Homo sapiens: one gene and its partners. The protein of the gene in region 3 purifies or fractionates together with the protein of the main gene of each other region. This does not show direct contact. Each region holds a gene or a part of one and is shown on either strand. Other genes may lie near its edges.

The links. Proteins that work in one complex are often made in the same cells at the same time.
Region 1: the proteins of RPS6KA6 (region 3) and WNK1 purify together in Homo sapiens (affinity purification with mass spectrometry; one large-scale study listed by BioGRID and IntAct). This does not show direct contact.
Region 2: the proteins of RPS6KA6 (region 3) and DDX18 purify together in Homo sapiens (affinity purification with mass spectrometry; one large-scale study listed by BioGRID and IntAct). This does not show direct contact.
Region 4: the proteins of RPS6KA6 (region 3) and NFYA fractionate together in Homo sapiens (co-fractionation; one large-scale study listed by BioGRID). This does not show direct contact.

The regions. Positions count from the first base shown.
Region 1 is NC_000012.12:885,079-888,578, forward strand, and holds part of WNK1 (serine/threonine-protein kinase WNK1), read left to right. Parts: coding exon 1-1,006; intron 1,007-2,142; coding exon 2,143-2,226; intron 2,227-3,500. UniProt on the Homo sapiens protein: Serine/threonine-protein kinase component of the WNK1-SPAK/OSR1 kinase cascade, which acts as a key regulator of blood pressure and regulatory volume increase by promoting ion influx.
Region 2 is NC_000002.12:117,828,191-117,831,690, forward strand, and holds part of DDX18 (ATP-dependent RNA helicase DDX18), read left to right. Parts: intron 1-758; coding exon 759-815; intron 816-1,098; coding exon 1,099-1,276; intron 1,277-2,391; coding exon 2,392-2,534; 3' UTR 2,535-3,500. UniProt on the Homo sapiens protein: ATP-dependent RNA helicase that plays a role in the regulation of R-loop homeostasis in both endogenous R-loop-prone regions and at sites of DNA damage.
Region 3 is NC_000023.11:84,059,200-84,062,699, forward strand, and holds part of RPS6KA6 (ribosomal protein S6 kinase alpha-6), read right to left. Parts: 3' UTR 1-3,500. UniProt on the Homo sapiens protein: Constitutively active serine/threonine-protein kinase that exhibits growth-factor-independent kinase activity and that may participate in p53/TP53-dependent cell growth arrest signaling and play an inhibitory role during embryogenesis.
Region 4 is NC_000006.12:41,099,939-41,102,903, forward strand, and holds the end of NFYA (nuclear transcription factor Y subunit alpha), read left to right. Parts: 3' UTR 1-2,465; downstream 2,466-2,965. UniProt on the Homo sapiens protein: Component of the sequence-specific heterotrimeric transcription factor (NF-Y) which specifically recognizes a 5'-CCAAT-3' box motif found in the promoters of its target genes.

The DNA.
Region 1 (3,500 bases), on a different chromosome or scaffold from region 3:
TACTACATCCCCGTCACTTCAAGTCCCCACATCCACATCTGAGATCGTTGTTTCTAGTACAGCACTGTATCCTTCAGTAACAGTTTCAGCAACTTCAGCCTCTGCAGGGGGCAGTACTGCTACCCCAGGTCCTAAGCCTCCAGCTGTAGTATCTCAGCAGGCAGCAGGCAGCACTACTGTGGGAGCCACATTAACATCAGTTTCTACCACCACTTCATTCCCAAGCACAGCTTCACAGCTGTGCATTCAGCTTAGCAGCAGTACTTCTACTCCTACTTTAGCTGAAACCGTGGTAGTTAGCGCACACTCACTAGATAAGACATCTCATAGCAGTACAACTGGATTGGCTTTCTCCCTCTCTGCACCATCTTCCTCTTCCTCTCCTGGAGCAGGAGTGTCTAGTTATATTTCTCAGCCTGGTGGGCTGCATCCTTTGGTCATTCCATCAGTGATAGCTTCTACTCCTATTCTTCCCCAAGCAGCAGGACCTACTTCTACACCTTTATTACCCCAAGTACCTAGTATCCCACCCTTGGTACAGCCTGTTGCCAATGTGCCTGCTGTACAGCAGACACTAATTCATAGTCAGCCTCAACCAGCTTTGCTTCCCAACCAGCCCCATACTCATTGTCCTGAAGTAGATTCTGATACACAACCCAAAGCTCCTGGAATTGATGACATAAAGACTCTAGAAGAAAAGCTGCGGTCTCTGTTCAGTGAACACAGCTCATCTGGAGCTCAGCATGCCTCTGTCTCACTGGAGACCTCACTAGTCATAGAGAGCACTGTCACACCAGGCATCCCAACTACTGCTGTTGCACCAAGCAAACTCCTGACTTCTACCACAAGTACTTGCTTACCACCAACCAATTTACCACTAGGAACAGTTGCTTTGCCAGTTACACCAGTGGTCACACCTGGGCAAGTTTCTACCCCAGTCAGCACTACTACATCAGGAGTGAAACCTGGAACTGCTCCCTCCAAGCCACCTCTAACTAAGGCTCCGGTAAAATTATTGTTATAAAATAATTAGATAAATATGATCAGTTTTTTTTCTCCCTAATGAGTACATTTTTCACTTCAGCCTTGTAAGTTAGAAACATATTTATAAAGGTACCTGGCTTATAGTATTTATTAAATTGACAGCAGTTTGAGGGTATATCTACAATGAACATGAGATTTTTTTTTCAAGTGTGGCAGGATTTTAGGGTTAATTATGCTGCACAGTTTTCCAAGATGGTATAATTATCGGGTAAAATACAGGTATTTCTTCTGAATTGGTACAAACTGAAGAAGTCTGTATCCCAAAAGGGAGCTAAATGCATCTGTCAGCAAAATGTACGTAAATAATAGCAGTTCATAGTCTTTGTTTCAGTGAGAATGAAGCAAATTTTTGGTTTTGTTGTAGATTCCACAGTTGTACAGTTTGGGGGTTATAAAAAATTGGAAGTTAGTAAGGAAATTGATACAGAGGAGAAATAAATAATCTAATCCTAGGACTGAAGTAACTAAAATTTATTATCTAATTATGCTGTGGTGGATTTCCTCTTGTTCTGCCACCTTCTCCAAATAACAAGGCTGTGTTACGTCTACTGTATTGTATGCTTCAGCCTCTTTCTGCATTGCCATTGATGTGAGGTTCTTTTTATAGTAGGATAATGCAGAATCTTCACTCAGATAAAATAGAAATTCTTGATAATAGTATTAGATTTCTGATGCCTTTTGTTATCAGACCTGCCCATTGGTTATTTCTTAACCAGTTACTGTTTTCTTTTCTCAGAAAATCTTGTTTTACATGGCGAAAGTCTGATACATACTGTACCAAATAAGTAGCTCAAGAATATCTGGACACTGCCACTTATGTACATATAGCCTTTGTTCTGTTCTCCCTAGGGGACAACTTTTTACTGTATTTTACTATTCATTTTATAGGTATATCGTAGTAACCCCTATAATAACAACATTAGTTGTCACACCGTTTTTTTAAGACAGATACCAGAGAGTAACCTCAGTGATAAACATGTCTTAACTATATATATTTTATTCTTATGTTTGTGCATTCAAATTAGTTGATTTGCTCTTCAGTACGCAGTCTTTATATTTAGCGTCTCACGGACTTGATTTTCCCTTTGTTGTCTGTAGGTGCTGCCAGTGGGTACTGAACTTCCAGCAGGTACTCTACCCAGCGAGCAGCTGCCACCTTTTCCAGGACCTTCTCTAACCCAGGTGCCTCAAGACTTGACAAATTTCTTCCTGTGCCCTACTTTCTTTGACAAAGCTTGCTGAAGTTCTCCACTACGTGGTCTTGGCTTTTGCCTATTTGTCTTTGACTTAGTAACACCTTTCTTTTAAAATGTTATAACCAATGACCCAGTTCCTACTTAAGTAAGAAGCTTCATAGCTCTTTTGTTTGTAATGTTGCTTCCGGTTATCCAAAAACACTTGATACTAATTTTTTTTTTATATCTTATGAAGGAAGAAAACAGCAAAGCAAACATTTTGTCAGACCCATATAGCTCCCTTTATCACTCACACTTCTGTAGAATAGCGAAATTGCGTATATAATCAAAATTAACTTTGAGAGTGCCCTAGAAAGGAGAAGCACAATATGGCAACTGAGAAACTTTTTCCGCGAGTCCAGAGCAACCAGTCTCTTCTTGAATGTTGATCATTTCTTTCACTAGCCACCTAATGAAGGAATTAGCTTACTTATAGGTAGGTATAGGGGTGATGTTTCATGAAAACTATGTGTGCTGTCTCTTTTAAAATAAAAGCCACCGAGCTCAGTGAGATGCTAACATTATGAGATCACTCATGGAGGAACTGAGACCAGCCTCATGAACTTGAGATTCCCATCTCACACAGTTCTGCTCACTTGAGTGCAGTGGTGGACAGAATTACCTGTAATATTTATTATTTCTCTTTCCCACCGCAGTCCACCGCCAACACATTTGTTGAATTTCCATAAGAAAAGTACTAATTGTGAATCTGTTGTGACCAGGAAAAATCTTCTGACATGAGACAAGCCAGTAAACTTTTAAACTAAATTAGGAATTTATTTTTGAATCATATATAAGAAATAAGAAAAACATGGTAAATTGCTTACTTGAGAAGCTGAGTTGGAATTTATCCCTATTTCTTTGGTCCCAATGTACAGGGGAACACTATTTGAGGAACTTGCCACAATGAAGTAAAAACCCCAACAGAGAAAGCACTCCATCAGCCACCACATTTGGGGGAAAGTGCATTGTGAAAGTCCGTAAATCAGGAGTTAGAAAATTAGTTTTAAACTTATTTTCTCATTTAAAAACATGGATTCAGATTTCTAAGGGAGTATAAAGTGTGACAAAAAATAGCAAGTGAGACATGTGGAGGGGTAAGGGTAAATAGCTAGTGCCTAGATAGAGGGAAAGGCCTAAGCAAAGACTGTGCAAGAATAGATTGATAGAAGCCAAGACAGATGTAGGATTAGACTGTGGAAGGGTAGAAGGAAGCTGTGT
Region 2 (3,500 bases), on a different chromosome or scaffold from region 3:
ATTTGTTTAAGTTCTTAGTAGATTCTGGATATTAGTCCTAGCCAAAATTGACAAATGGGATCTAATTAAAGAGCTTCTGCACAGCAAAAGAAACTACCATCAGAGTGAACAGGCAACCTACAGAATGGGAGAAAATTTTTGCAATCTACCTATCTGACAAAGGGCTAATATCCAGAATCTACAGGTTGACATTTCATTACTTATCTTTCTCCCCCTCAAGACGGCAAGCTCTCTGAGGGCAGAGTCCATGAGTTAGGTACCTATTTTCTCTCTAGCACCTGGCACAGGCCTGTTGCTTTTCTAGTTATCTAATGAGTGATAACTGATGGCAGATCCATCCTGTAGGAGTTTGTGGTCATCATGGCCTCCAGTGTCACAAGCCTCAATACAGGACTGTGGGGGTATTAGGGCCCCTCTTCTGACATGGAGAAAAGGGGCTGATGGCCCTTCTGACTAGAAGCTTCAAGCTGATTCATGGTTGCAAATAGTCAGGATTATAGAGATTCTTACAGAAAAGTGCTTTACTGACTGTGTCCCTATCCAGTTCCTTGCCTTTCAGAAAGAAAGAAGTGCAGATTGCCTAACTCAGCAGAGCAAAGATGTAACTTTCCCATCAACATTGGGAGACTAGAAAAAGCAGATTTTCCTTTCTGTCCTGAGGGAATTTCATAGGCCGGTTCATCCTTCCCTGTCTTCAGTACCCAGTATCGGAATGCTGATCATCCTGGTTTACTAATCTTAATACTTTTGATTTCTAGGTTCCATTAAGTGAATTTGACTTTTCCTGGTCTAAAATTTCTGACATTCAGTCTCAGGTATGTGCTTTTTAAACGTTTGTGAGTAAACAGGAACCTTGTCCCAGCACTCTGTTTGTAGTGATTCACTGGGCAATCACTGTCCTTTGAAGTCTACCCTGTCCTAAAGTGAGGATCAGGCTGTGTAGTGTATAAGGTTTCTTGCTATTCTAGTTATCACCACTCTGTGCCCTCTTTAAATGTTTTCCATGGAGTGGCTTTGCTCTAGGATATTTAAAATCTGGTGTTTTGGAGGTTTTTGTTTGTTTTTGTTTATTAAAACCAGTGTTTCTTTCTATTTCAGCTTGAGAAATTGATTGAAAAGAATTACTTTCTTCATAAGTCAGCCCAGGAAGCATATAAGTCATACATACGAGCCTATGATTCCCATTCTCTGAAACAGATCTTTAATGTTAATAACCTAAATTTGCCTCAGGTTGCTCTGTCATTTGGTTTCAAGGTGCCTCCCTTCGTTGATCTGAGTATCCTTTTCTTTAATGAAGTTATCCTGTGACTAAGGAACAAAAGCTTGACAGAGGGGCATTTGGGGCTTTGCAGTGGATTGGTATGTGTTCTGGCTCAGACTGGAGGCTCCAGTGTTCACCCTGGTCGATGTCTGCTTTTCTGTGCTAGCACAGGACATAGAGGTTGGATGGGGTAAGCAGGGCTTAATCATTAGGATGGGGTTACAGGGACAAGGCAGCTTATGCCTTGAGCCTTCAAAAGACAAAGAAATTTGACTGTCAAGGAGAGACAGAGACAGTTGTGTGTTCCAGGCAGAAACACAGGTTAAAAAAATCAAAACTTCAGTGTTTGCTGAGGCTGCACTGTGCAGGGTACTTAGGTGAATGGGGTGTTTTGAAGCTAAAGAGAGGATGGGACCTTTCAAGGAGTTTTAATCATCTTAGAACCCCTGAAGGATTTTATGCAAGAAAGTGGCAAGTTCAGCAAAAGAAAATAAAACTTAGGTGTTGCTTAAGATAAAAGGCAGGAGTACTTCCAGTTGCTTCAGTTGTGATTTATAATTTGTGCCTTTCAGAAGAAGAAACTGAGCAGCTGAAATGAGGCCTGTGCTTCAGTGCCATAGGGGTAACTTCTGAGGGAACTAGAGGACCAAATTTTGGGTCACCATCCCCATTGTCAGCATTGAGTAAATGTCAGCTGAAATGAATGTATGTCGAGTCCTGTGGAAGGAAGAGCAGCTCCTTCACTTAGGCATTCCTAAATCAATTCCGAAGAGAAATGATAGTCATTTGTTTTGACACAGGAGGTGTTTTTTTAATGTGCTCCTACCAACTTCCTGATTAAACTCATAAATCCTTATTCACTGTCATGAATTTCATCGTGTGGAAGAAATAATTAATATGACTATTACACACCGAAGTTTAAAATCATACCTGCTAATTTAAGTCCACAGTCACGTGGCCACTCCTAATTTTCTGGAAATTTATTGCATAGGCTTATGTTCCCACATTTTCATTGTTGAGAATGGGGTTGTGGAGGAACAGTAGTGTTCATGCCGGTTTTTTTCTCTGTGTAGATGTTAGATTGGAGTTCATTATCTTTTTTGCTTGATTTCCTTAATGTTTGCCTCCAGACGTCAACAGTAATGAAGGCAAGCAGAAAAAGCGAGGAGGTGGTGGTGGATTTGGCTACCAGAAAACCAAGAAAGTTGAGAAATCCAAAATCTTTAAACACATTAGCAAGAAATCATCTGACAGCAGGCAGTTCTCTCACTGAACACATGCCTTCCTTTCATCTTGAATAACTTTGTCCTAAAATGAATTTTTTTTCCCCTTGATTTAACAGGATTTTTGTAGACTTTAGAATTTGGACTTACCTAACAAGAGTATAAATTGACTTGGGTTGCAAGCACTGAGCACTGTTACTTCTATCACGTCTCTCTTTTATTTCTGGGATATAAAACAGGCTTTAAGTTTCTTGGTTGCCCAAGGGCAGAGCAAGGAATATCTGGTGTTTCTTGTGATGATAATATTTTAATTTTAAATATCCCTCCCTCATACAAGTGTATGTTACCATTTTAATATAATTCTTTTTGTACCTTTCCTTCTTGTTTTGCGAAGATTTTTGTGGCATGGATTGCTGTGCTCACTGCTGTAAAAGGTGACCTAGTGTACTGGGCAGCTGGTGGCGGTGCAGAAAAGAGTCTCAGGTTATTTTTTGTTTTTAGTTATTTCTTGGACCTTGACAGTATCTAATGACTCCTCCTGAAAATGCTGCAGTATAAAAGAGCAAAGAGCTTTGGGAAATACCTAAGAAGCACCTTAAGATTAGGGTGGCATTGCTTTTATAGATTCTTGATTTTAAAGCAACAGGCCTTTCTCAGGTGTTGCATTTTTTGGAGCAAAAACTATGGGTTGTAATTTGAATAAAGTGTCACTAAGCAGTTATAACGTTTGATGGCTGGGGGGTAGGAAGAGGATGGAATTGAGATGTTTGAGCCTCATTTACATCAATAGAGGTGTAATGTACTGCATTTCTTCATTTGGTAACATAACAAAGACTTTCATACAAAGAACGATGATGCTCCTCATTAAGATTTGTTTAATTCAAGGTGGTTTGGATTTGGTAAGCCTTTGCACTCTGTAGAGTACTTAGAAGACAAGGGCAACTTACTTGGAGTTAGAGCCAAGCTGTCAGACGGTGCCCAGCACACATTAATGTTAGCTTCTTTCTGAGAAAAAA
Region 3 (3,500 bases):
CGGCTCACCGCAACCTCTGCCTCCCAGGTTCAAGTGATTCTCCTGTCTCAGCCTCCTGAGTAGCTGGGATTACAGGCATGCGCCACCACACCTGGCTAACTTTGTATTTTTAGTAGAGACGGGTTTCTCCATGTTGGTCAGGCTGGTCTCGAATTCCTGACCTCAGGTGATCCACCGCCTCGGCCTCCCAAAGTGCTGGGATTACAGGCATGAGCCACTGTGCCCGGCCGGCTGTTTCTTGATAGACTGCTTTCCTGCTGTTAAAAATAATTTTATCATACTAAAAAACAAAACACTACATATTTGTTATAAGCAGCAATTTCAGAGAGAATGAATTTGGAAAGAGAAAGAAAATGTGACCTGAGCAATATTAGTTCATAGGAAAGATAAAAGTAACCTAATCAGTCACATTTTGACAATTTTTTAATAAACGAATGCAGTTAGTACATTCTCTATAATTGTCCACGTAAAATTAAATGCTTAATACCTTTTGAAGAATAAATTATTAGTTCCCATAACTAGACAGTTGGAATTACAGCAAAACAGTCATCCACAGAAGCTCTATTGTCCAGCGTTTAGAAATGTGAATACAAAGCAAACCCTAACTTGGCAATTACATATATATATTTATTTATAAGCATTTAGCTAAAATTTATTTAGTGAATAATTGAAACATACATAATTTGCCAATATAATGTAAGCTTGGATTTCCATATTCTAAAACTTTTGTTTTTCTAAATATTTCAAAGAAACTTATGTCTATAATTTAATATATTCAAGTATAGTTCCCTTTTCTCTTATGTATTAGCAACCAAACTGAATTTTAGGTGATCAAGCATAACATTTTATTGAAAGTATATGATGGAATTCACTACACTGTAAGACTAAAACCAGGAACAGTGCATCCATGAGTATAATGTATGTTGTGAATAATCACTATCAATGCCACTATATTCCCACATAAAAAGGCAAATAGCCCACTATTGATTTATTCTGCTAATTTCAACAATCATTGATCTTGAGGTACATGCCAAAAATGCCTGAATAAGCTTTGAAATGTAAAACAAAAATGTTTTAAAGAAGTTTAATTGCAGTTGGCCAATATATACTTAATATGGCTTGCATTTTTTTTTTTTTTTTTTTGAAATAACATTGTGACTTAAAGGATTTCTAGGTCCTAAAATCTGGAAAAGGGATCTGGAAAAATTTGGACTCCATGAGTAGTTTGGATTCAATCTCTCTGTGCTTTTTTTTTTCTTTATAACAGGAATGGGATGGGGGGTGGGGGGAATAAAACTTCTTATGCTATATAGGTCATGTACTGTGAGAAACAAGAATACAAAACTATGGGTTTAAAAACAACATATACAGAAATAATCGCCAATCTCTGTCTACCTCCACATCATTTTGTCATAGAAGTTCATTGTGATTAAAAAGTTTAAAAGTTTTTAAGAGAAAAGGTAGATTGAGAAGTAGAAAGGAAGTAGGAAGGAAATTGTGCAAAAAAAGAAACAGTTTATTAGATACTCTGACCCTGGGACACACTGTTCCTTTCCCCCAAAATATTTTCCGTGATAGGAACTGAATTTAAAATTATCACCTTGTTAGATTGCCTGAAGATCCAGCAACTAAAAACTTGATTAATGCACAACTTCCTTAAAAAATGCCAATTAACTATTAGCCACTGACAGAAAAATGTAAATTAATTTAATAAGATAGCTTTCCTTTCACCTTTTTAGCTGGAAATGTCTGTTCTGATAGAATGGATATCCTGATTTGGGGAAGAGGAAGAGGAAGGAACAAGGAGTAAGGATCACACAGAATCCTTCTGGGGATAGGGTAAATTTCGTTGATGGAGTATTGCTGTGAGGTGCTCAAATAAGATAGATAGCATGAAGGGGCTGGAAAGCCAGGAGAAAGAGAATGTACAGAATACCACAAATATGCTTTGCCCACTTTAAAGCCTAAGTTTTCTTGTGGGCCTTAGGGCCAAGATAAATGGTTGTTTTCCTTCTTCATATATGAAAGACCTCTATCTAGAAAATACTAGTCAATCTGTATGGAAGTTTCTCTGGGCAGTACTATTTTAACATGTTGTTCCAATGGGCAGACATTATAAATACCAAGCATCTGTTCTTAAGGTTGTGGGTTGCCTAAACATATGGAATCCCTTTGAGCCAAACAGAGGTGCTATCAAAATTGTTTTATTATATTGAATTACCAATGACAATAAATTACAAAAAACACTGTTTTAGACATTGCTGAGTCTAACAAAATAGGCTGAAGTTTGATCTTTGTGAAAGGACTTGAAACCATTGTTTTTTCCCACAAAAATCCCCATCACCAGCACTGCATTCGAATTTTCTTGAAAATTGTTTCCTGAGTTTATTCATGGTAGTATGTGCTTAAGGACAACAGGTTGTTAGTCTATTTGAGCAAACCTGATGTTTTCTCTAAGAAAAACAAATTCAATATCCTCCCCCTTCAAGAACAATAAAACCCCAAACTGTGCTATCATTAAATACTACCAAAAACCATTAACTAGAAAAACACAATGCAAAATCATTATTCAAGAACCCATTAGAAACCACAGTATTCTAAAGTCTTATAGAAAAGATGTGTTTTTACTAGTTAAGCATTGATAGAAGTCCCATCAAAAAAATGTTCAATCCAAATCTGCATTTTTGGCTATGGAGTTCTAGCCAAACTGGACAGGATTAGGCATCCTTACCTGGGCTCCTTCTACAAAATGACAGTATGTTTTGAAGCTCTCCCATATAATAAGGTTGCCCCCTACTACTGTGGTTAAGCTAGCATATTTGAGTTTTTCACTAGAAAACTCTCAAACAATTATCGGGTACATCCAGTAGCATACCTGTATCTTTTATACACTGTCAGTCCTCACTGGGTGATCAGAAATCATGCTGTTCATTGCTTAATTCTTATAGTGTTCCTTTTATGATAGGACTGTATGGCATGACCTTTCTGAGCAAGCTAATTTAAAATTAATTAAGACTGTCTACTTTTTAAAGCCATTGATTATAGAAAACCTGAAAGTTATTTTGTAATCATTTTTCATTTTCTGATTTCACTTCCCCTAATTTTATTACTTAAAATGCATCCATGGAAATAGTATCTCTGTCCTGAAAACTTCAACACCAAAATCACACCTCTGAGTTTGACTTATCGATTCTGATAGGAAGGCATAACAGCACTAGATAATGACAGAAGGAAAATAAGTCAGAATATATGCTTACAAACTGTTACATGCAAGTACATATAGTAATAAAGCAAATGAGAAAAAAAGCCAAAATGGAACATAAAAAGCCATAAGACATGATACCTAACTACTTCTAAGTAATTATTTTTCATGTGGCATAAATTGTTATTTAATCTCTTTCAATTATTTCCAAAAGATACCTCAAAATAAGAATACATACTTTAATATATCACACCCAGGAAACAGATATTTGTGCATGGGGTATAGATTATTTACATTA
Region 4 (2,965 bases), on a different chromosome or scaffold from region 3:
GTTATTTTTTAAAATAAATTTATAAAAATAACCGAAAAGTAATGTGACTTTTGAGGAATCTGCAACTCCTGGGTTCTAGTTTGTGTTTCCAGTGTTGAAATTTTGATCTCCCCCGACAAGACTTGTCTGCATGGACGGTGTCTCTGTAAACAGTATCAAACTTGTAATGTCTGAGCCTCTTAGCTTTATCTCCCCTTAATTTCTTCCCTTTTGGCCCTTCCACCCTGTTGAGGAGATTTTTTCTGTCACCTGCAGGCTGATCATACATTTGATGCTACTACTGAAAGTGTTTATCAAAATGTGATGAAGTAATTCCATGAGGAAAATTAGCCGTTATCACAAAAACAGCCTTAAGTATTGTAGAATTTCAGGTAGTGAAGATGTACTATTTACGTTTTGTTAGATTTTGTTTTGGCAGAAGACCAAAACAAAAGTACTTTTCTGATTGTTAAAAATCCACAGCATGCTCACCTTGTTACTGTTTTACCTTACGGTCGCTGGGAATCTAAGCAACAAAGACTAGAAGCCTCCGATATGCCATTATCAACACACAAGAGACAAACAGCCCGAGGAAGCACTCAATGATGAGAGCAGTAGACCTGCCCTGGCAGATGAGAGAGGAGAAACTCTCCACAATGAAGGAAAAGCACTGACAGTATTTGATAGCTTTAGTCAAACTGTGCTTGAGTTTGGCTTAGATTTATGCCAGTGGAACCTGTCCTTACCAAATTCAGAGATGACCCAAGATTCTACTCTGTGGTATGAGGGAAAGACCTCTCGATATTTATCTCACACCAACGGCTTTATCGTAGGAGCGTCTTCGCCTCCCCCGTTTCCAGTAGAAAAGACAGCTTTGCTCCTTTGAAAGCGCAGACCGCCGCACCTCCAGCCCCTTCTCCCCGGGGAAGTAGGCCCCGCTAAGAATGTGGGAAGGTGGTGGGGCGGCGACTGAAGTCGCTTCCGATTGGCGTTGTCCCAAGGAAGCCTGCGCGGATTGATCGGCGGCAGGCCTCCAATAGAGCCTGCTAGGCGGATTGGCTGCTACGCGGCTGGGCCCTGTTTCCGGTACCTAGGCGGGCAGCCATGGTGACCGGCGAGCGGCATGCGACGCCGCCTCTGTGGCCTGTGGAGGCCCGCTTGGCGGCGCTGCTTCCCGACCTACTGGTCTTTCGGAAGCCTCGGGGATGGGAACCCGAGCTCGCCACGGCCCAGGGCGTCCTCCTAGGCGTCCATGTGACGGGTGAGGGCGACGGCCGGCACTTGCACTTAAGTCTCCTGGCCTGCGGGAGAGGCGGCCGTTGGGTCTAAGCCCCTGGAGGCCTCGACGGTTACAGGCCTAGCCTCCCGCGAGCTAAGGCACAGTTTAACTTCGTGCTGCGGCTTCCTTAGGAAACTTTGAGTATCTTCGTTTTAGCGTGGGAGGACATCTTTTGGGATGAACCGGCTCAGTCCTTGAGCTCACCCCAAAGATGATGAAATTGAAACTCAGAGGAAAGGATTTTTACAGGACCACGCCCCGGGCTTTGAACCCGTTTTTCCCAACCCCGAGCATTTTCTATTAAGCGTTCTGTTTCAATTATTTTATTCGTTCAGTTAATTCGTTCTTGGCGTCATAAGTATATGCCCGCCGTTGTTCTGGCCGTAGCTATCTAGCAGCCACTCCGCGAGTCGTTCATTTAACAAATACTTACTCTGTGTCAGGGATATGAAGATGGGTAATACCAGGTGCCTGTCCTCACTGTGTGAGTGGTTCTCTAGCCAGACATGAGGAGGGATCCTATTGTTTCCCATAGCTAGGCAGCCTAAGAGAGTAGGGGAAAGAGCTGGCTCCAGATGAAAAGGGCACCATCTCCAGCTCTTGGAAGCAGAGAGGGTGGTCCTTTGGATTCCCAGTGGCAGCAGCAACCAACCTGGCCCTTAGTAGTTTCTAAGTTACACCATGTTAATGGATAAAGGAATTACTCAGCTTGAAGGGATCTGTTTCCTTTACACTGGCCTGATGTGTGGGGAGAAAGGGGCCAAAAAGTTTAGGATTTGGAGTTAACATCGTAATTTCTGCTTTGTTGGTCAGGGTTTACAGCATTAATGGACAGGTTCACCCTGACCTACAAGTCGGAACGTGACATGGACAAACTGGCCCATATCTTCAGTTATTACATTAGTGACATCGTGGAGCGTGAGTGATCATTGTAGGGTAACAAGGTGTGGTGCTGGGCTCCTGGGGGTTTATAAAAGAAGGGGGCCAGAAGTACTTTAAAACAGGTACCAAAGGGTCATTCCTTTAGCATCATTCATCTTTGGTTTCTTCAAGTTGCCACTGAAAAGCTAGACCTTTGCCTATTATCTGCTAATCTACCCAGTCTCACATTCTATTGACTCATTGTTCAAAGGGGGGGCAGGAGGAGCTAATTTCCTTTGCACATTTGTATTTTATTTCAAAATAAAGTATTCTCTTCTAACAATAACGTATCTCAAGTGTGTATTCAGACAAAATTTATAAAACATCTTTTTATTATTATATTTTGATCCTGTGAGGAAGGAATAGGTGTTTTCTTATTTTCTGCCATGTATTAAGCTTTTAGATATTTGCCAGATATCCAGTATCTGGAAAAAACTCATTTATGTAGTACCCATGTTTTGAGTACCTACCCTGTGACATGGACTGTAATAGGTGCAGGCAGGGCAAGAACCCACTCTTGAACTTTTTAGTTAGGCCTACCCAACAGAAATTACTCTGACCTTATACCTTTTAGTACTTACGTAACATTCTCATCCTTTACTGACAGTGCCCTGTATGCTTCCGTCCATCATTCTGAGATTCACCAGAATAATTACTTTGAGGCATCTCCGTTAAGAATTTGATTATTTGACTTACCTCTTATCCTTAAGGAACACATGGAAGGTCGTTTGCTTTTTCTTATAGGTTTGGATGAAGGGGAAGATAAACATTCTATATCGTGTATGT